Linked DNA regions of Homo sapiens. The protein of the gene in region 1 interacts with the protein of each later gene in a pairwise test. Each region holds a gene or a part of one and is shown on either strand. Other genes may lie near its edges.

Evidence for each region. Proteins that work in one complex are often made in the same cells at the same time.
Region 2: the proteins of CTNNA3 (region 1) and ZNF19 interact in binary tests that used the Homo sapiens proteins (3 or more experiments, as listed by UniProt).

The regions. Positions count from the first base shown.
Region 1 is NC_000010.11:67,220,562-67,224,313, reverse strand, and holds part of CTNNA3 (catenin alpha-3), read left to right. Parts: intron 1-3,752. UniProt on the Homo sapiens protein: May be involved in formation of stretch-resistant cell-cell adhesion complexes.
Region 2 is NC_000016.10:71,475,583-71,479,334, forward strand, and holds part of ZNF19 (zinc finger protein 19), read right to left. Parts: intron 3,424-3,752; coding exon 3,297-3,423; intron 2,760-3,296; coding exon 2,646-2,759; intron 691-2,645; coding exon 1-690. UniProt on the Homo sapiens protein: May be involved in transcriptional regulation.

The DNA.
Region 1 (3,752 bases):
TCTAAACAAGTCAAACTCATAGAAGCAGTTTTACCATAGTTGCCAGGGGTTGGCATGTGGGGGAAACGGGGACATATTGGTCAAAGGGTATACACTTTCAATTATAAGATGAGTAAGTTCTAGGGACCTAACTCACAGCATGGTGAAGACAGTTAATAATAATGTATTGCTTACTTGAAATTTGCTAAGAGAATAGATCTTACATGTTCTCACAGCACATACACACAAACGCAAAGGGTAACTGTGTGGTGATGGATATATTGATTAATATGATTGTAGTAATCATTACACAATGTATATGTATATGAAAGCATCATATAGTACACCTTGAATCTACACAATTTTTATTTGTTAATTGTACCTCAATAAAGCTGGAAAAAAGATTCACATTCTCTGAGAAATTTTATTTAATCCCTTCAAACTGAGAGACTGTCCTCTATGCTGTGGGTAACTCTATTTTAGTTCCCATGTAAATGTGTTTATTTGTCTCCCCTCCTGATCTTTATCTTTGCATTTCCAACATTTAGCACACTGCCTTGATGCAAAGTCGAGGCTCAGCATAGGAGAGGCTCAACATAGTACAGGTTGAAGGAATGGTTGAATTAATTAACTGATAGCTTAAAGCCCTCCACTTGTATTTTTTAAAATAATATTCCTAAATATATTTTGTTCTCTTGCCAGGGTTAAAACTCATATGTTACTTCTCTACCCACTTGCACAGACTTTAAGGTCTTTTTAAATCCCATCTGTGTGTTTCTTCGTCAGCTGGAAACATTTAATGTCTTCTTAACTTGGAAATCTCCTGTGAGCTTTCTTCTGGAGCATTTAAAAAAAGATTATAAATAAGTATCAATCCTTGAGGAGCTGAATTCTTTATACTTCTCCATCCAAAGAAATCCCTGATTAACTTTACTGTTTAATGCCTATTTTGACTTTATGTAAAATTTTAGGGTAAATGGACAAACAAGAACCTTTGAACCTATGGTATCATCAGTTAAAATAAAACAACTACAAACACCACTACCACAACATACATTTAGGAGGTGACAGTCATTAATTTCTCTTTTATCTGTGTGCCTATTTACTACATTAAGTTTATCATGCTTGATGTCCTTTGGGAGAAATGGTCATGCCTTGTCAGTTTTCCTTACATAAACTCTGCCACCTGCCCCTTTGCCCCTGTCCACTGCTGTAACGTTATATTTGTTATGTTCACTGATCTAGTCCTTTTTCGCAGGCGTCAAGGACTTGCTATTTGGGCTCATGGATTCTGTAATTGCCTTGGGCAGAGATGACAAAGCATAGGCTCCAAATTCAAAATACATTTGTATTTTTAACATTTCAAAGTCCCCATGGCATTAAAGTTACTACAATTTACCATCAGATTACACATTGCTACCATTAGAGCAAAAGAAATAATTTTAACTTTAGCTTCTTGATTATAATCTATGTTCAAGTTTTTCACCTTTCAGAAACAAACTAAACCTTGACACTGTCCTTCTAAATAAAGAAGCATAATGTATAGGTCACTTCAGAGAGAATTATGTATTAAGTTGTGATTGTACAGTAATATCAGAGAATTTGCCTTACCTTTTTCTAAATATTTATACTTTTAATTATTACTCATCTGAGGAGCTGTGCATCCTTTCTAAACATTAAACTATTTATCCTCTAAGTTACACTGATGACTGTAGGTAGAGCTTGTACAACGTTGTGGGAAATACAAAAATCACTAAGATTATCAGTACAGAAACAGTACACCAAGTTTGACAGATGTAAGGAATAAAACAATTCCGTATTCTTTCTACACCTTTTCTCTATTTTCCACTTATATTCCATTTCTGATGTGCTATGTACTCAATCTTGTGAGAGGGTCGGCAGAAGTATCATTATCCCATTTTTACAGATAGAAAGACAGACACCGAAAGAGATGAGTTACCTAGCTCACAGTGCTAATGACAGAACTAAAACTAAAACCCAGACCACATATACAAGGGGGAAATCGTAGCAAGCCAAGAAAACCATAGTGTCTTTTCTTGGGTGATTAGTGACTATGAACAGTGGGTTGATAGCTACTTCTAACTGTCCTCCCTACATTTTGTAACGAAGTTAATCTCTCCAAAGCCTGAGTGAAGTAGCAGACAGTGTTTATTTTCAGAAGGGAAGGAACTAAAAATATAGTAGCACAAGCCATTTATTAACCTCATGCAACATTATTCCCAGAGTAGCAGAGTCTTGTGAAAAGGCATAAGGTTAGCAATCAGTAGACTTAGGTTTAGATCTCTGTTCCTTTACTAGTTTCTATCTCCTTGCACCAAACACCTGTTTAGTTAAAATAGGACTAATAATAGCAGCCTCATTCCCTCAAAGACTATTGTCATGATCAGTAAGATACTGTATAGAAGCACTTTATAAGCTACATGATATTATACAAATACAAGTCCTCATTCTGTGTAGCAAATAAGAAATTTTTCCACTTTGGGAGGCCGAGGCGGGCGGATCACAAGGTCAGAAGATCGAGACCATCCTGGCTAGCATGATGAAACCCCGTCCCTATTAAAAATACAAAAAATTAGCTGGGTGTGGTGGTGGGTGCCTGTAGTCTCAGCTACTCAGGAGGCCGAGGCAGGAGAACTGCATAAACCCAGGAGGCGGAGCTTGCAGTGAGCCTAGATCGCGCCACTGTACTCCAGCCTCGGCGACAGAGCGCGACTCTGTCATAAAAAAAGAAAAAAGAAAAAAATTTTTCCTATGTAGGAAATAATGTCACATAGTTTTTAGGATAAGGGCTTGGAAGTTATACTGACGTGGGTTACAATACAAGAAATACCACCATCTAGCTCTGCCACTTGGCTAAGAAACTTAGTCTCTTGAAACCTTAGTGTTTTGAGTTTTAAAATGGGAATAATCACATCTCTCATGAGTTTTTATAAAGATTATATGAAATGTTGTATATGAAGTGAATGAACTATTGTAAATGTCCCTTGAATTAGTTTTTTTTAACTTAAGCTTTTATTTGGGAGTAATTTTAGATTTACAGAAAAGTTGCAAAGGTGGTACAGAGAGTTCCCATTTACCTTTTTTCCAGTTTTCTCCATTGTTAATGCTGTATCTTACATTTGCCACTACAAAGAAATGGATACTGATGCATTGCTATTAACTATTAATAATGGTTATTTGGATTTCAGCAGTTTTTCATGAATGTTTTTTCTGTTCCAGGATCTAATCCTCAGTACCACACTGCATTTAGTTATGTCTCCCCAATCTTCTCTGTTCTGTGACAGCTTGTCAGTCCATCTCCTGTTTTCCATGATGTTAATGGTCTTGAGGAATACTGCCCAGGTGTCATTTAGGATGTTCACCAATCTCATTTTGTTTGTTGCTTTTCTCATGATTAGACTGGAATTATGGGTTCCTGGAGGGAATACCACAGAAATGGCATACTTTTCCTGTCACAGTATATCAAGGGGTACATGATATCCATGTGATATCACTGATTATGTTAAATTTCATCACTTGGTTAAGGTAGGGCTTGCCAGATTTTTTTCTTGTATATTGAGCTAGTTCTGATCGCCTATCACTTAGACAGGGCATTCTCTTTCCTCTCTTCTCTCTGATGTAATGCTATTCATTTACATTTACTGCAAATTGTCATCTCTGAAGAAATACCTTCTCGGACCATTCAGCCTAAAGCAGCTTTTCCTTTCAAGTCAATCTCTATGACACTTCACTTTTGTGTTTTCTTCATAGCA
Region 2 (3,752 bases), on another chromosome or scaffold:
TACGCTGATGTTGGCTTAGATGGGAAGTCCTTCCAAAGCTTTTGCCACACTCATTACACTCATAGGGTTTCTCTCCAGTGTGGATTTTCTGATGCCGAAGTAGGGGTGAATTACCAACAAAAGCTTTGCCACACTCATTACACTCATAGGGTTTCTCCCCAGTGTGGATTCTCTGATGTATAACAAACTCGGAACTACTCGTGAAACTATTCCCACACTCTGTACAGTAATAGGGTCTGTCCCCACTGTGGATTCTCTGATGCCTGATCAGATTTGCATTATCATTAAAGGCTCGCCCACACTCCTCACACTGATAGGGTCTCTCTCCAGTGTGAATCCTCTGGTGCCGAATTAACGAAGAATTACCATTAAAGGCTTTTCCACACTCACTACACTCAAAAGGTTTCTCCCCAGTGTGGATTCTCTGGTGTCTAGCATAGTAAGAAAAGTAGCTGAAGGATTTCCCACACTCCTCACATATGAAAGGTTTCCTTGCACAGGGGATTCTTGGAACCTTTCCTTGGATATTTTTCACTGTGGGGATGTCCTGGTGCTTTTCCACATTACGTGTTTCTGGGAAGTCAGTTCTCTGAGGGACACTCTTCAGCTGACCATGTGACATCATCCCATCTCTTTCTTCAGAAATTCCCTGGATTAATGTGGACTCACTGTCAATGTTGGTCTCAACATCTGACATAAGAGATAGAAAACACAAATAATGCCACCTGAGAACTATACTAGAAATAATAGAGCATTGAAAATGATAAGGCTTTAAAAGAGATCATTTCAACTTTCACATCAGCATGCTGGGAAGAAAAGGCTGTTAAAGTGAAAGTGCCAAATATCACACAGGCAGAGAACATTGAGGTGGAACAGGGTATCAGTGGACACAACACACGAGACTGCTTCCTAAGCTTTTCTACTCTAATATTTGAATGATGTCTGGTCATCCCTGGCATGAGCTAGTATCTTTTGAATTGATGCTACTTACAGCCTACAAAATGCCAAAGAAGGCACAGGTCTTAAGAACAAGTAGTGACATCGGGGCTGGCAAGACTTAGAATCAGAAAGTGAAACAGAACAGTATCAGAAAGCAAAGGCAAAGGATGAATTGTTGTTCTTTTTAAAAACTCATACCCTGCAGATGTCCCAAAAGACTTAAGACACTGAACATTACAGACACTGGGTTGTGGCAAGACAGAGAGAAAGAAAATCACAGAAGTGCTTAGAGAGTATTATTCCCAATATGTTGTAAGATTACCTAGTTCAGAGGTTCTTAACTGCAGAACCACACATGGACTATAGACGATGAGGAAACGCCCTAAAACTGCTGAACCTCAAACATGCAGAGAAACTACTGTCCTAGACTCTCTATTTGAAAAGGGATGAACAGTTTACTTAGACACACCCAGACTGAGAGTATTCTTTCTCCTATCAGCAAAAAGGAGACAAACAGCCCATAAAATGGCATTTGTGTTCCAAAAGATTGGATGACATTTTAAATGAGTTAAAGTCAATCCATTTTATATGAAATGATGGGCTTGGTTTTAACATTAATGTGGGTTACCTGGGACTCATGTGATGGTTAATCAAGTTCATCCTATGAGTGTGAGTTAAAGGAGTAAGGGAACTCCGAAGGAGAATGTTCAGAGGAGAGTAATCTGAGATTGAAGTAAACAAGGTAACCAAGAGTCTGAAAAAGAATAATCACCAGACAGAGGAAGCGTGTGAGAACAAACCAACAGGTTCTCAATTGTCTTGATGATTCTTTTTCAGATTCTTAGAATAAGAGGCTGAAGTGCTGTGCTAGCTTCATTATTTTCCACGTATTTGCTCTCTGCAAACCACCTGCACTGAAACTCCTGCCTCTGCCTTCAATTTCACTGTTTGCTCTTGGTGGCCCCCATCTATTTGACTGTCTACTTTCTCTTCCTTCTCTCACTGAAATTAAATATCCCTTAATGGTTAAGATTCAGCCTTCATTTTTTCTTCCTGGGGATCGTTTCAACCCAGCTGTGTTAGAGTACTGTTTCAGACCTGCCTTTTATCTCAGACTCTCCACCCACCTTCTCAATGGCCTGCTCTAGCCATCCACTTGCCTATTCTAAAGGCACCTCACGCCCTGTGCTCAGCTCTGAATTCCTATGAATTCAAAAAGCTCCTCCCATGCCATGACTTCCTAGTGTTATCTGACTCAGCTCTCCCCATTTATGGCCAACTTTTGGGAAGATCTGGCCCATTTTACCTTCACATTCTCCGTCCCACTCCCAACAGCACTTAATACTTTTCTTTTTCGCTTTTTACATCTGTCTCCATAACTTGTACCTGCCAGAACTTCTTAAACAACGTTCAGCACATGGCAAGTTGCTCAAAAACTGCTCCTGAATAAATCCATCCCAACCAAGGAGGACAACTAAGGTAGGCAATGTTGAAACTCAGAAAGGAACAATGGATTCAAGGATTGCAGATGAGACGTACTGAGTGATTACATGTTGGTAAGAGTTAAGATTGGTGAGAAACGTTTCATATTTTACCTATTAGGTGAAATCATCTATTTTATTTAAATCCTGCCCAGCATGATTCATTTTAAAATACAGTGCTCCATAAAACGCTACAATTGTTGGTTCTAAATCTGCCTCACCTACCTTTACAGACGTTTTTGGTCCTCTCTGCTGGGGGATCATCCTGTGCTTCCAGGCCCCAAGCCATGTCCCCTCTCTCCAAAAGTGAGATCAGTGCAGGTTTGGGAACTGGGTACCCTGAAAACAGGAAGAAAATGGTACTTTTCAGCCCTGTATCTGCTGTGTCAAAAGAAGGAAAACCCCAGGAGTCTCAGTAAGAATAAGACCCACAGAAGAGGGTTCTCGACTGGAGAAGGCCAAAGAGATTCCGATCAACAGGAAACTGAGCATTTGTGACTTCTTCCTAAAAAAAACACTCAAGGATAAGTAAGTCAGTGAGATCCACAAGGCATGAGCAAACACAGGGAAGGGGACATGCCCTTCCCCAGACAACAACTACTACTTATTCCTTACTGTGCAGAGCCTCTTGGAAGATGGAACATACTCTTACCAGGGGACAGTAATTCCCTTCATTGGGAGACCAAAGTGACCCAAGACCTCTCCCTACCCAGCAATCTTTGAAGTTGGTCACTGAGCCTCAGCTCTGCAGTCACTCAGTGGAGGACACAAGAGACAACCTCTCCTCTCCACTCCACACTCCTCCCCCCAGGCTGTAAAAGAAGGAAGGAAACTGGAAAAGTACAGATCTGAGTCCTAGGAGGAAAATGGCCTTACCCAAAGCAGTCAGGTTCCCAAAATTCTCCAACATCACACTTCTGTACAGGGCCCTCTGGGCAGGAGAAAGGCCAGTCCATTCTGTCTTGGTGAAGTGCACAGCCACATCCTCGAAGGTCACCATCTCCTAAAACAACAGGTTCCTGCTGCCCCAGAGCCAATCCTCTGGCTCCGGGCCAGAGTGTGGGGCAGAGGGGACAGGTAGGGACTTGAGGGAAAGTCCTGTGAGGGATAGGTAATGAGAAAATGTGACAGAACTGGATATTAGACCATTATATGACTATTTTTACAACGAAAAATCTGGAACTTCTCTCACTACCAGAAGAGATTCCATTAGGATATAAAATTGACTGTCATAAAATGTGATTTAACATTTTTTAAACCCTAGGAAAAAAAGTCTCTTATTAGTTAACCTTCCTAGGGCAAAAATCTCTTTGATTTAGTAAATATTTTCAG